Regions from separate parts of the Homo sapiens genome. Here all the other regions are reported to be linked to region 3. Evidence: microRNA targets listed by miRTarBase, many of them from high-throughput screens and not tested one by one. Region 3 holds a microRNA gene; each other region holds the end of a gene's coding sequence.
Evidence for each region. The annotated mature microRNA hsa-miR-617 reads AGACUUCCCAUUUGAAGGUGGC and lies in region 3 at 2,303-2,324, opposite strand. An mRNA with a match to its seed (bases 2 to 7 or 8) in the 3' UTR can be bound and repressed. Matches are read on the target gene's strand: a 7mer-m8 pairs with bases 2 to 8, a 7mer-A1 pairs with bases 2 to 7 and ends in A, and an 8mer does both.

Region 1 (3,142 bases), not on the chromosome of region 3:
GAAGTAAATTAAGACATGGGATCCAGAAAATGAGGGATACAATTCAAGAGAAAGAAAAACAAATCCTCACGATAGTGCTGTCTCAGGAAAACTGCTATACAATTGGATGAGAGAAACTAGTCTAGATTGAAACAAGTACAGAATCAAGAAAAGTTGTGACAAATTTATTTGGGACTGTTTGGGAAGAATCAATGATGTGCATAAAAAGCCAAAAAAAAGAGCATTAACTCCAAGACAAAACGTTGTATGAGAATGAAAATGTAAGCACATTAAATTAATTCACGAGTGAACATACAAGTATGATCACAGCTATGCAAACAGGTACATGATCTAACCAAAATAATATTAGAAGGATGTGAAACAATAAAAGAAATTTTCACCTGTCTTAATAGTAAGTTGACAAACACCTAAAAAATAAATGGCTGTATAATCATATTATTTAGAAACCTAAAACCAAAAACTGAAGGCTGAAAGAACCGAGCTAGAAAAAACTGAAGGCTGAATGTCTCTTGGGATGGGACTGAGGAATAGGAAAGGATGGAGCAAGGGGCTTTCCTTATTAGCCTTGAAGTACCATTAAACTATGTTCAGGCTGGGCACGGTGGCTCATGCCTGTAATCCCAACACTTTGGGAGACCAAGGCGGGCAGATCACTTGAGGTCAGGAGTTCAAGACCAGCCTGGCCAACATGGTGAAACCCCATCACAACTAAAAATATAAATTAGCCAGGTGTGGTGGAACACACCTGTAATCCCAGCAACTCAGGAGGCTGAGGCAGGAGAATCGTTTGGACCCTGAAGGCAGAGGTTACAGTGAGCCAAGATTGCGCTACTGCACCCCAGCCTGCGCAACAGAGGGAGACTGTCTCAAAAACAAACAAAAACCTATGTTCATACAACACTTTAATAAAAATTCATTATTTATTTATAATTACATGTACATACATATATGCATTTGAATATCTAGAAGAAACTACCATTTGCAATCTCTTTTCCATGGTTCTAACCTACTTGGAACATAACCAAGTGACAACATACAAACAAGTTCTAGATTCTAAACCTGTTTTCCACTGCACTGTAACTGGGGGATGGGACTCAGCAACAGTGACTCCATAAGCCAGCAAATGATTTTCACCTAGAGGGAGCACCAGACTTCCAAGAGTTGTTGGGATGTGGGAGGGGAACACTAGTTTGGAAAAAAGACCTTAAATGATTTTGATACTTCTCCCTACAGTATATATGCTTCCCTACCCCTCACGGCGACCTACAGCAAGAGTATCAAAGAAACAAGTCTACGGATTTGAAATGGCATGTTGCTTGCACTATATATTTTAATCTAAAGTTTATTAAATGTTAACGTGTTGTCAAAATGCTTTTCATAAAATGAAAGAAATATACCTCATGGGCAAACAAGCAGCAATATTCTTTTTTGTTTTGCTTTTGAGACAAGGTCTCACTCGTCACCCAGGCTGGAGTGGCACAATCACGGCTCACTGCAGCTTTGACCTCCTGGGCTCAAGTTACCCTCTTGCCTCAGCACCCAAGTAGATAAAGAGTAGAAGCACACACCACCACACTCATTTTTTAAATTTCTGGTAGAGACAGGGTCTCGCTATGTTGCCCAGGCTGGTCTCAAACTGGGCTCATGCCATCCTCCCGCCTCAGCCTCCCCAGAGTGCTGATTATAGGCATGAGCCACACTGCATGTTGCCAAGCAGAAATATTCTTGAAAGTCAGAAACCTTAATCCCAATTATGTATTGCTACATTCTTTTCATCTACTTTAATGTTTGTAAATATACACATAAAGCTTTGTCTCCCTGCCCACCTGGCCTAGTCATTTTGGACTCTGTACCTCAAAGCCATAAATAATATTTCTTCTATTAGAAGAGAAGCACTTTCAGTGTGGAAAAAAATCTTTATTTCAAAGTAAAATGCACAAAGTCTCATACAGCAGATAAAATCAGTGTTACTGCTCTCAGATGTTAAGGTTAGCAACCTTTCTGGCATATGCTAATTCATCATGAACTCCCAATAGCTGAACTGAATGGCTTTTAAGTACAGCTATAAGGTCTCATGGTATAATTCCTTTTGTTGATGCCAGTGACAGGATTTTAAAAGCTACATTCCATTAAAAATTAAAAATACAGCAGCTTTTCCAGGGGAACTAGATCCCAAAATTGTACCCAGAACTCTTGTCTAAGATATTAAGTTAAATATCTTGCATGTATATATCATTATAGTAAATCAGTATTCTTGACAACCACAGTGTAAGAAATTAAACTTTGGCTAATTGTTTTCCCCATCATGAAATCAGTCTTTTGCTGTCTTCATAAATAAATTATGACCAAACATTACAAATACTTTATACATGTTTACTGATTTACAGAGAATATTTAATAATCAGAACTCACCAGTTTCAATAGTATTGTACATTAAATTATAAGCAATATAACCACTGCTACAAAAGTTATCTAAGTTAATCCAGGATAAAAACTGTGTCTAGAGTTTAAATACATTGAAATAGAAAAAAAAATAGAAATTAGAAAATAGTCTTCAAGTTCTGAAAATCTAGAAGAATTCTCCAACATCTGCTCTCTTATCTCGACATTTGCTTCTAGCTTTGGTTCGAGCTTTGAAGGCTGCAGAGTTATATAAATGCTAAAATGAAAAAAAGGAAAAACGTGCATCAGTAAGACTTAAGATATTCTTACAAAACAGAAAAAGGGTAAAAGTCACAAAGAAAAGAAATGAACTAATTTGACCCTATAAACATTTAAATGTTTATAAAACACACACAAAGAATGAAGGAGAAAAACAAAGAGTTAACAGGGGCCATGCAAGGTGGCTCACACCTGTAATCCCAGCACTCTGGGAGGCCGAGGTGGGCGAATCACGAGGTCAGGAGATTGAGACCATCCTGGCTAACACGGTGAAATCCCGTCTCTACTAAAAATACAAAAAATTAGCCAGGCATGGTGGCACATGCCTGTAGTCCCAGCTACTCGGGAGGCTGAGGCAGGAGAATCGTTTGAACCCGAGAGGCAGAGGTTGCAGTGAGCCGAGATCACGCCACTGCACTCCAGCCTGGGCAACAGAACGAGACTCCGTCTCAAAAAAAATAAATAAATAAAGAGTTAATGG
Region 2 (3,142 bases), not on the chromosome of region 3:
GAGCCATAGTCTGCAGGAATAGGTCGCTGACCCCATGGACACACAGAGGCATTTGTAGCCCTGTTGTGAGGGGTGTTCTTCTGGGAGGGACCAGCCAGGGTGGGGAGGGAGGGAGGGGGTCCCTGGGACCCTATGATGAGCCCGCAGGCAGAGTGAGTAGGGGGCAGTCATGGAACAGGTGTGTCTGTGGGAGGAGGCGCATCCCACACATAGGGCAGAAGGCAGAGGGCAGAGCTGTGGGGGAAGCTCTGAGGCTGGAAGGGCAGGCCCATGTGGCTGGAGGGCAATGGGCAGGGGTGGGGGCAGCATGGTGGGGGAAGAGGCTGGGGAGGTGGGCTTGGAGACAGAGGGCAGGCCCCCCATCAAAGCTACACAGGAAGTGATCTGTTGCCCTCTGGCTAAAACTAAATTAGTGCAAGTTCATTCTTAATGGTCATTCTCTCTCTTTCTCTCCTTCCCTCCCTTTCTTCTTTTCTATCCAGGAGAGACCGCATAGATTCGAAGATGATGGCGAACTTAACCTGGTCTATGAAAATCTCTAGGATGGGCTCCACCGCTCATAGAGCTTGCCCTGGGTCAGAGGACCGGGGCAGCCCCTGCCACCAAAGGACTTGATCTGAGTTGGGAGTAAGGCCCCCAGGGACACCCCATCATTTCACCCTCACATTCAAGGCCCTTCCTGTCTTGGCCGGCCCCACTGCCCCCCCATTCTATGCCCCAACCACCAAGGCTTTCCCATCTTGGGGCCTTTGCCCAGGCTGTTCCTTCTGCCAGGCAGGCCCTTCCTCCCTTGGCCCAACCAGCAAAGCGCCCCTCAGTCTTCAAGGGCTTTCCTGGATGCCACCCTTGCCCAGAGCCCTGCTCACTGCCTCATGCTGACAGAGCAGCATGCTCTCTTGGCACCAGCCTGCACCTCAGCCAGTAGGGCAGCCTCTGAGCTGAGGGAGGACCCTGCAGGGGCGCCTAGCAGTGCTGTGTGGGGAGCCGAGGTATGGAGGAGCTGGGGAGCAGCTATGCAAATCCCTACCTACCCAGCTGGGCCAGAGGCACGAGGCAGCCAGGCAGGGTGGGAGCAGGGGCTGGCGTGGGAGGTCTGGGGGACAGACAAGGATGATGGACCCCTCAGAGGCAAGACTAGGATCAGGGACAGATCTGGAGGCCCAGGACATGGCTGAGAGGTGGTCAGCAGGCTGGGGGCATGGAGCAGAGAGGGCTTGGGTACAAGCTGGAGAGGAAGGAGATTCTGGCATGTTGGGGTGAGGGCAGAGGGACAGATGAGGGGAGGAGGGTGCTGGCTAAACAGGAACTGAATGAATGGCCTGAAGCTCCCTCTCCCAAGGGTTCCCACTCCCATTGGCCTGGCCCTGTACGTGCACTCTGTCATCTCCTTGGTCACCCTCTGCTCCAGGCCTTCTCCACCACAGGACCTCAGCTGTCCCTCCTTCTACCCAAGGTGGAGTCCCCCAAAGTCCCTTCTGTCTGGCCTATCCTGTGCCCACCACCTGTGGCTTCATCCAGCCCTCCTCCTCTATCTTTATCTGCCATAGGCCGCAGCCCTGGCCCCCTGTGGATTGAGGTCCCAAGTGGTCCAGCTGTGGGGTTTGGTGCTGGGACCCTCAATGGCAGCCGGAAGGTCCCTCTGAGGCAGAAGCTCAAGCCCCATGGGGACAGTGGCTCCCCAGTGCCTGGCCCTGAGCCATTTCTGCTGTTTCAGGTGCCCACATCACCCTCATTTCCTCCTCGCAGTAGCCCTGCACCGTGGCCAGAAACCCATCCACAGGCAGGCAGTGGCTGGGGTCCGGGTGCCCCGGGCTGTTGGGCTCTGCTTCCTCCCTCTGCTCCCCCATGTCTCCCTGAGTTCTCCCACCTTTGCTCATTTGTAAAATGGGCAGGTCAATCTTCCCACCCCACCGTGTGGGCTGCCCCAACCCCAAATGTGCCCAGGGAGGGGGGGGAACCCAAGGCACAGGCCCCGCCCCTGCCCCCAAGCAGCACTGGGCTACTGGCTCACAGAAGCACCTTTGGTTCTGCAGGTCATGCCCCTCCCTGCAGGGAAGGGAAAGCTGGTGGTAGAGGCTGGGCACAGACTGACGTCCAGAAGAAGTCCCTTGGCCCTGCTAGGGTGGCACCAGACTTCTCTGGTCCCACAGGACAGCCAGTGGCCTCCCAACTTGGTTCTGGGCCCCCGCCTGCAAGCACACATGGCAAGGAGGGCTTTAGCAGGCTCACATAACCGAGTGGCAAGGCCCCTGCTCCCAGAGGCTGGATTTGAATGAACTCCGGGCCTGTTTGGGGAGGTGAAGCTGCCAGGTGTGCACAGGGGCCTCCCAGGCTCCTGGCTCCACCAGCCAAGGAGGTGGGGGCAAGGGTCAGGGCAATGGGGGACAATGCCGCTCAGGGTGCAGTGAGCTCCCCTGGGAAAACCGAAGCCAGCAAGACCAGGAGAGGGCCACCTCACTGGGCCTGCCTCCCCCACCTCCTGGGCCTCTCTGACCTCAGCTCCTAGACCCTGGACCCTTGGCTGGGACTCAGCATTTTCCAGTCTTTTTCAGGGGTAGACAGGGGAGCCTGGGTTAAACTTTACCACTGTGCCCTGGCCCAGGCATCACCAACACGGCCTCCCTGCAGCTGCCCTGCCACCGACAGACCCCGATTAAACCCACACCTGGCCTTGGCCTCCCCTGCTCTATACCTTGCATGGTTTTTGCCTCACTTGGAATAAAATTCCAACTCCTCCCTGTGGCGTAGGAGGTTCTTGGGGGCTGACCCATCACCCCTCTGGTGGACAGAGACATTGCCAGCGTGGTGGTCGTCTGTGCTTGGTTCAGGGCAAGGCTGGGAGGCAGTGGGTGCTGAGGTCTTCAGTGAGCAAGGAGAGAGGCAGGGAGGAGGAGGAGGAGGAGGAGAGCACAGCATGAAAGGACGGGACCCTAAAGGGCTTTGGCCCAAGGGAGGGTGGGGCAAGAATGTTCTGAGACTTCTGTGGGCAGCAAAGAGGACTGAGCACCTGTTCTCCAGCCCCCAGGACTGAGAGCCTGCAGAGACAAGCTGGCACAGGGCGAGGGGTGGCAGGGAACTTCAGGGTGGGAGGTGCATGGGGCAGGCGGGAGGAGGAAGAACAGAGAGGGGACAGAGAGGGTAT
Region 3 (3,142 bases):
AGAAAAACTAAGTAGCTTCTTATATTATCATCTTTTAGCAATGAGAAAACTAAGGTTCAGATAAGTTAGCAAATTATTCACCAAACTCCACCAATGACATTGAATTTGTGCCCTATAGGGATTTACTGAGAACTAAAGGGCCCAGTGCATTTAGAGTGCTCTGCAGACGCTTGGCTTAGAAGCCCTGGAAGGAAGTATTTTCCATTACTTTTGTTACCAATGTTGTTACTACATTTGGGGGTGCTTGCTTTATTTCTAAACTTAATGTCTGGGGATTTAAAAATTGCCATTTTAACACAATGGCACATATAATTGAGTAGAAGATATATTTTTTAAAAGTTGATTTTTTTTAATTAGAAAAAAACTAAAAATTGAAAATGAAAGTGAATTACTAACACTGAACTCATTTCCTTCTCCCCTCTACTCCAATCCACTCCAGTTTCACTGGTTTTTCGTTGCTTCTCTCGAATGCCAGTGCCCTTCAAACCTTAAAGACTTGGTGTTGACACTTTCCTCTGATGGTCACAGGAGAATGATCTGAATGTTCTTCCCTAGGTGTGGCTCACTCCCTTATCTCCTTTGACCTCCACCTTGAATATCACCCCTTAACTGAGGCTACTCTGACCGGCACCACACTCTCCCTGCCATAGCATCCCCTAGCCTCCTTACGCTGTACTGATTAATTTTCTTAGCACTTGCCATCTCTAACACTATATGGATTTCCTTATTTATTTTGTTTATTGCTTATCTGCCATACTAGAATGTGAACTCCACAAAGGTAAGGACTTTTTTGTCTCTTTTTTTTCATTAAAGAATCCTGACTGCTTCAAATTGTACAATGTAGATGCCTAATAAATGCTTATTGAGTGACTGAGTGAATGACTATTGAAACTGGCCAAGCAATGTTATATAGCCTTGTTTGGCTACACAGGTGCTTTAGATACAAGTTCATGTATATTTTGTCGATTTATTGCCCTATCTAACATCTCTCAAACTAAGGCTTTGGTGGAGTCACTGAGCAGTTAATATATTACTGAAAGCAGATGAATGTGCTTGGATCTAGGCAGAGTAACAAAACAAAGACAGCTAAAGTTAAAAGTCTGACCCAAGGTCTCACATTCCTATAAATAATTGATAATGCATCAGGGGAATTTTAATGAATATATTTGATTTGTTTTATTTACAAAATAGACATACTAAAAGTTGCACATAATTATTAATCCTTTTCTAGAAGAGTAAACAAATTTATTAGAGACCAAGCAGACTGAAAGTGATTGGGCTTCTTTGTGAAACACTGCCAATATATGCAAAATTATATCCAATACAACTGAAGGAAAATATATTTGAAGCAATTACAAATCCTGTCCCATAACATGATGTGTGGTGTGATAACCAACATCATACAACTTTGCATTATCCCTCCTGCCAATTTCATCTAATAAAACACGACTCATGTGAAATGGTGTGTGCCCTAGGTTCCTGTGGTAATTAGCTGTGTCTAAATTGCTATAACATGGGCAATGATATTTAAAGTTGCTCTTACATTGCCTAAGAGTGCATAGCAAAATAATAATTATCATGTAATTTAGATTTTCAAAATGTAAACAGATCATGGCCACAAAAATAAGGGGAATTTCAGGATGAGTGGCTGTGCACTGTCTAGCCTGGTGGCCAGTCTCATTTCAGATCCATTGTAAAACTGAGAGACAGACAGCATTCAGGTACCCTGCAGGTTTTGGTTACAGACTTTACTGAGTGGTCAAATAGATATTGTGCCTTCTAGATTTAGGCAAAAAAGAAGAGTGGTGAGGCTTTGGCATATTTCTGTTCATGACATATTGGCACAATATTTCTACAAATCACTCAAAGCTAAAGCTAAGGCAATTAGGAGTAGTGCATCCATTTCTACTTATGAAAAACTTAACTTGGTGTTTCTAGGATAATTAGATCAAAGTAAGCTCCCTTAGGGTATGATCTACGTTTTCTTTAAACTGTTCCTTTCCCAGTGCCAGACATGGTACCATGGTTAATAAATCTTATTAGCAGTCTGACTGAAGATTTTAAAGTGATATTCTTACAATAACGTTTGCCTGTAGAGACAGATTCAATACCAAATTTAATAATGGCAAGCTGTCAATTGCTTTGCCTTTGTCATCCATGGTAATTGGGATCAACTCTGGTGCTCCTCCACACAGAACATTCAATTGAGATCAAGCCTTGGATGAAATCTCTTTTCCAGAATGCTCCTCATTTATTGAATCAGAAGGAGCCTGGACTTACCATTTGAAGGTGGTAGGAAATGGCCACCTTCAAATGGGAAGTCTAGGCTCCTTATGATGGCTTATGGTAGCTTCCGTGACATGGCTCCAGGCCATCCCTTCAACTCTACTCTTTAGCTACAAACATGTTGATGCTATGATTTGGTAGAAGTCCATTCTATTCATATTTATGGCATAGTGTACAATGTGTGCATTTTTCAGATTTTAATATTGTAGCTACTATATGGTTTGGAACTGTTTTCATGAAAATGAACTAATTTAGTTTAAGATAGTGATTCTCAACCAAGGATGATTTTGCTTGTTAGGGGACAGTTCAAAAGGTCTGGGGACATTTTTTGTTGTGGTGACTGGATGGGGAGGGTGTTACTGGCCAGGATAAACATTCTACAATGCACAGAATGGCCTCCCCCAGAAAGAATTATCCCATTCAAAATATCAGCAATTTCAAGGGTGAGAAATCCTGGTTGACAAATGTAATTGAGTGAAAAGTTTACATAATATAATTTTTAAGTGTTCTACTTCGAAATGCTGTCAGTTTGATAGAGCTCAGTTAATTAAATTTACATCTTGGAAAAGGCAAAACTAAATTAAAACCTATGCCCTTGTTTATGTTCATATGGCTGAGCCATAGACAACACAACCTCCAAGTACTCAGCTGCTCACTCTCACCTGAACCATCTTTTCTGCTGTGTCAACAAGAGGCAAGATCCTTGTCAGAAACCCAAGAGTTCTTGGTAACTCCCTATTCTTCACCTTGCATATCCAGTCAATCACCAGTTCTTGTTTATAGTCCCGTTACATCCAAAGTCATTTTCAAATCTTTTCCTTTCTCTCCAAATTGCCCCTCTTCCAGTTAAGACCTC
Region 4 (3,000 bases), not on the chromosome of region 3:
TTGTCTATTTTTTCTTTCTATAGGACAAAAAAACTAATACAGACTCCTTTATTTTTATATGGATATACTAGGATTGTAATTCAGATATTTAATATCTTTTATCAGTGTTCAGATCATAGATTAATGGAGAAAACATTTAAAATTGTTTTAAATTTAAATACATTGAACTCTAACATAGATGAAAAATGTGTTTACTGCTTTCAGTCGACCTGATAAAAAGCAACGTATGGTAAATATTGAAAACTCCAGGCATCGAAAACAAGAGCAGAAGCACCTTCAGCCACAGCCTTATAAAAGGGAAGGTAAATGGCATAAATATGGTCGCACTAATGGAAGACAAATGGCAAATCTTGAAATAGAATTGGGGCAATTACCTTTTGATCCTCAATACTGATTCACAATTGAGTTAAATTAGACAACTGTAAGAGAAAAATTTATGCTTTGTATAATGTTTGGTATTGAAACTAATGAAATTACCAAGATGACAATGTCTTTTCTTTTGTTTCTAAGTATCAGTTTGATAACTTTATATTATTCCTCAGAAGCATTAGTTAAAAGTCTACTAACCTGCATTTTCCTGTAGTTTAGCTTCGTTGAATTTTTTTTGACACTGGAAATGTTCAACTGTAGTTTTATTAAGGAAGCCAGGCATGCAACAGATTTTGTGCATGAAATGAGACTTCCTTTCAGTGTAAGAGCTTAAAGCAAGCTCAGTCATACATGACAAAGTGTAATTAACACTGATGTTTGTGTTAAATTTGCAGCAGAGCTTGAGAAAAGTACATTGTTCTGGAATTTCATCATTAACATTTTATAATCTTACACTCACTTCTTGTCTTTTTGTGGGTTCAAGAGCCCTCTGACTTGTGAAGAATTTGCTGCCCTCTTAAGAGCTTGCTGACTTGTTTTCTTGTGAAATTTTTTGCACATCTGAATATCGTGGAAGAAACAATAAAACTACACCATGAGGAAAACTAAAGGTCTTTATTTAAAATCTGGCATTGTATTAACATGTAATTTTATACTATGTGGTATTTTATACATTTCCTCAGTAGTGATATTTGGTAAAGCAGTTCATACAGCTTTTTTCTAAGTTCCATGAATCTTACCCAGTGTTTACCGAAGTATTTAAGCAGCATCTGAATATTTCCACCCAGCAATGTTAATTTATCTAGGAAAGTTCAGAATTTCATCTTCATGTTGAATTTCCCTTTTAACTTCCGTTCATAGACATATATGTGACTTCCAATTCGACCCTCTGGCAAGTGAGTGTGGAAGAAAACAGCAGTTCTTTTATAATTGCTTGAAATTAGGAAAGCGCTTATTTCCTAGAAGCAAATAAATGTTTAAGTAAATAAAGGCTACATTTTGCTGAGTACTGTTTCAGTCAATTTTAGAATTGCCTATTCTAATTGCTGTCTACAACTTTTTGCTTAATAAAAGAATTAACTTATAGGAAGTAAAATACTTTGATAGTTACAGAACTGGGGCTAATTTTGACTGGAGAAAAGACTAATTATGAAATGTGGGTTGAAACAGACCATAAAAAGGTTATATTATCTATTTACCTGAGGGTTTCCTAAACCTGGGGTAAAATTAAAATACTGAGTTTTCCTCTTTTTCATGTTTACTTACCTCTTCCAAAATGCTGAAGGTGATCAAGTGAGTAGGCAATGATGCATCATCATGAAACTCTCTATGTAACCAGTTTAAGGGATTTAGGTAAAATACATCTGCTTCATCAAGATAATGACTTTTTCCAGTCAGGTCTGGCGGGCACTGGAGAAATCTCATGGGAAGTGGGCAGTGAACATGGCTATGAAAAGAAAAGTTACCATAATAAATACAAGTAAAACATGAAAGTTTTCATTAGTCTTAAGATATGTCATTTATACTTAGCAAAATGTGAAATCTGAATCTGTAAACTGTGTTGCAGTTAAGTGAAGAAGCAAGCCTTTAACTCATTTTCTCAAAGATAAAAAAAACATGATTCTTATACCATGTACCTATGCAGCAGCAGCAGTATAACCTATAAGCCCAAACTAGTGCATAGAAGTCCATTTCAAGGAGGGAAGTAGGTCAGTAGGGGGACTCAACATTCTGTAGCATTGGTATTCTGTTCCGGAAACATAAATGGTCCTCAGGACCAGGTAAGTTAACTTGTTAATAGGAGAGTAATTCTCCATAGGTGTATTTGATAAAGTAGGAAACTGTGATCATAATCAGAAAGGATTCTTTCTCTCTTCCCTTTCTGCTCTGATAGGGGATGGATCACATACTTATATGGCAAGTTTTTTTTTTTTGAAGACAAGAGTTTCGCTCTCGTCACCCAGGCTGGAGTGCAATGGCGCAATCTCAGCTCACTGCAACCTCCACCTCCCAGCAATTCTCCTGTCTCAGCCTCCCAAGTAGCTGGGATTACAGGCGCCCGCCAACCACGCCTGGCTGATTTTTGTATTTTTTTAGTAGAGATGGGGTTTCACCATGTTGGCCAGGCTGGTCCTGAACTCCTAACCTCAGGTGATCCACCCGCCTCAGCCTTCCAAAGTGCTGGGATTACAGGTGTGAGCCACCACGCCCAGCCACATGGCAAGTTTGAAGTGTTTTTTTTTTTTATTTAAGATGATTGAGAAGTAGAGAGCAACATATGTCCACTGATTAACATCCAAATAAGTAATGGTTTTATTGTGGCATAGAAAGACTAGAGTAGGCCGGGTGCAGTGGCTTATGCCTGTAATCCCAGAACTTTGGGAGGCCAAGGCATGTGGATCACTGGAGGTCAGGAGTTCAAGACCAGCCTGGCCAACATGGTGAAACCCTGTATCTACTAAAAGTACAAAAATTAGCCGGGCATGGTGGTATGTGCCTGTAGTTCCAGCTACTCAAGAGGCTGAGGCAGGACAATTTCTTGAACCCAGAAGACGGAGGTTGCAGTGAGCTGAGATCATACGCCACTGCACTCCAGCCTGGGCGACAGAGCAAGAGTCTGTCTCAAAACAA

Region 1: the mRNA of IFRD1 is a reported target of hsa-miR-617. Seed matches in the 3' UTR shown: 7mer-m8 at 1,150-1,156.
Region 2: the mRNA of NFAM1 is a reported target of hsa-miR-617. The part of its 3' UTR that is shown has no 7-base or 8-base seed match.
Region 4: miRTarBase lists CCPG1 as a target of hsa-miR-617. The part of its 3' UTR that is shown has no 7-base or 8-base seed match.

The regions. Positions count from the first base shown.
Region 1 is chr7:112,474,947-112,478,088 of GRCh38, reverse strand. It overlaps IFRD1 (interferon related developmental regulator 1), which reads right to left. Exons shown (of 12, transcript NM_001550.4): 12 at 886-2,659. The coding sequence ends at 2,570. Among named protein-coding and RNA genes, the nearest start is that of LSMEM1, 4.5 kb to the left of the region's middle.
Region 2 is chr22:42,382,561-42,385,702 of GRCh38, reverse strand. NFAM1 (NFAT activating protein with ITAM motif 1) reads left to right here. Exons shown (of 6, transcript NM_145912.8): 6 at 483-3,142. The coding sequence ends at 542. Among named protein-coding and RNA genes, the nearest start is that of LINC01315, 15 kb to the right of the region's middle.
Region 3 is chr12:80,830,291-80,833,432 of GRCh38, forward strand. It overlaps MIR617 (microRNA 617), which reads right to left and starts at 2,339; the gene lies at 2,243-2,339. The region is part of intron 4 of LIN7A (lin-7 cell polarity scaffold A); the gene reads right to left.
Region 4 is chr15:55,353,614-55,356,613 of GRCh38, reverse strand. CCPG1 (cell cycle progression 1) reads left to right here. Exons shown (of 9, transcript NM_001204450.2): 9 at 205-1,375. The coding sequence ends at 394. PIGB (phosphatidylinositol glycan anchor biosynthesis class B) reads right to left here. Exons shown (of 12, transcript NM_004855.5): 11 at 1,636-1,816; 12 at 966-1,328. The coding sequence ends at 1,182. DNAAF4-CCPG1 (DNAAF4-CCPG1 readthrough (NMD candidate)) reads left to right here. Exons shown (of 16, transcript NR_037923.1): 16 at 205-1,391. Among named protein-coding and RNA genes, the nearest start is that of MIR628, 18 kb to the left of the region's middle.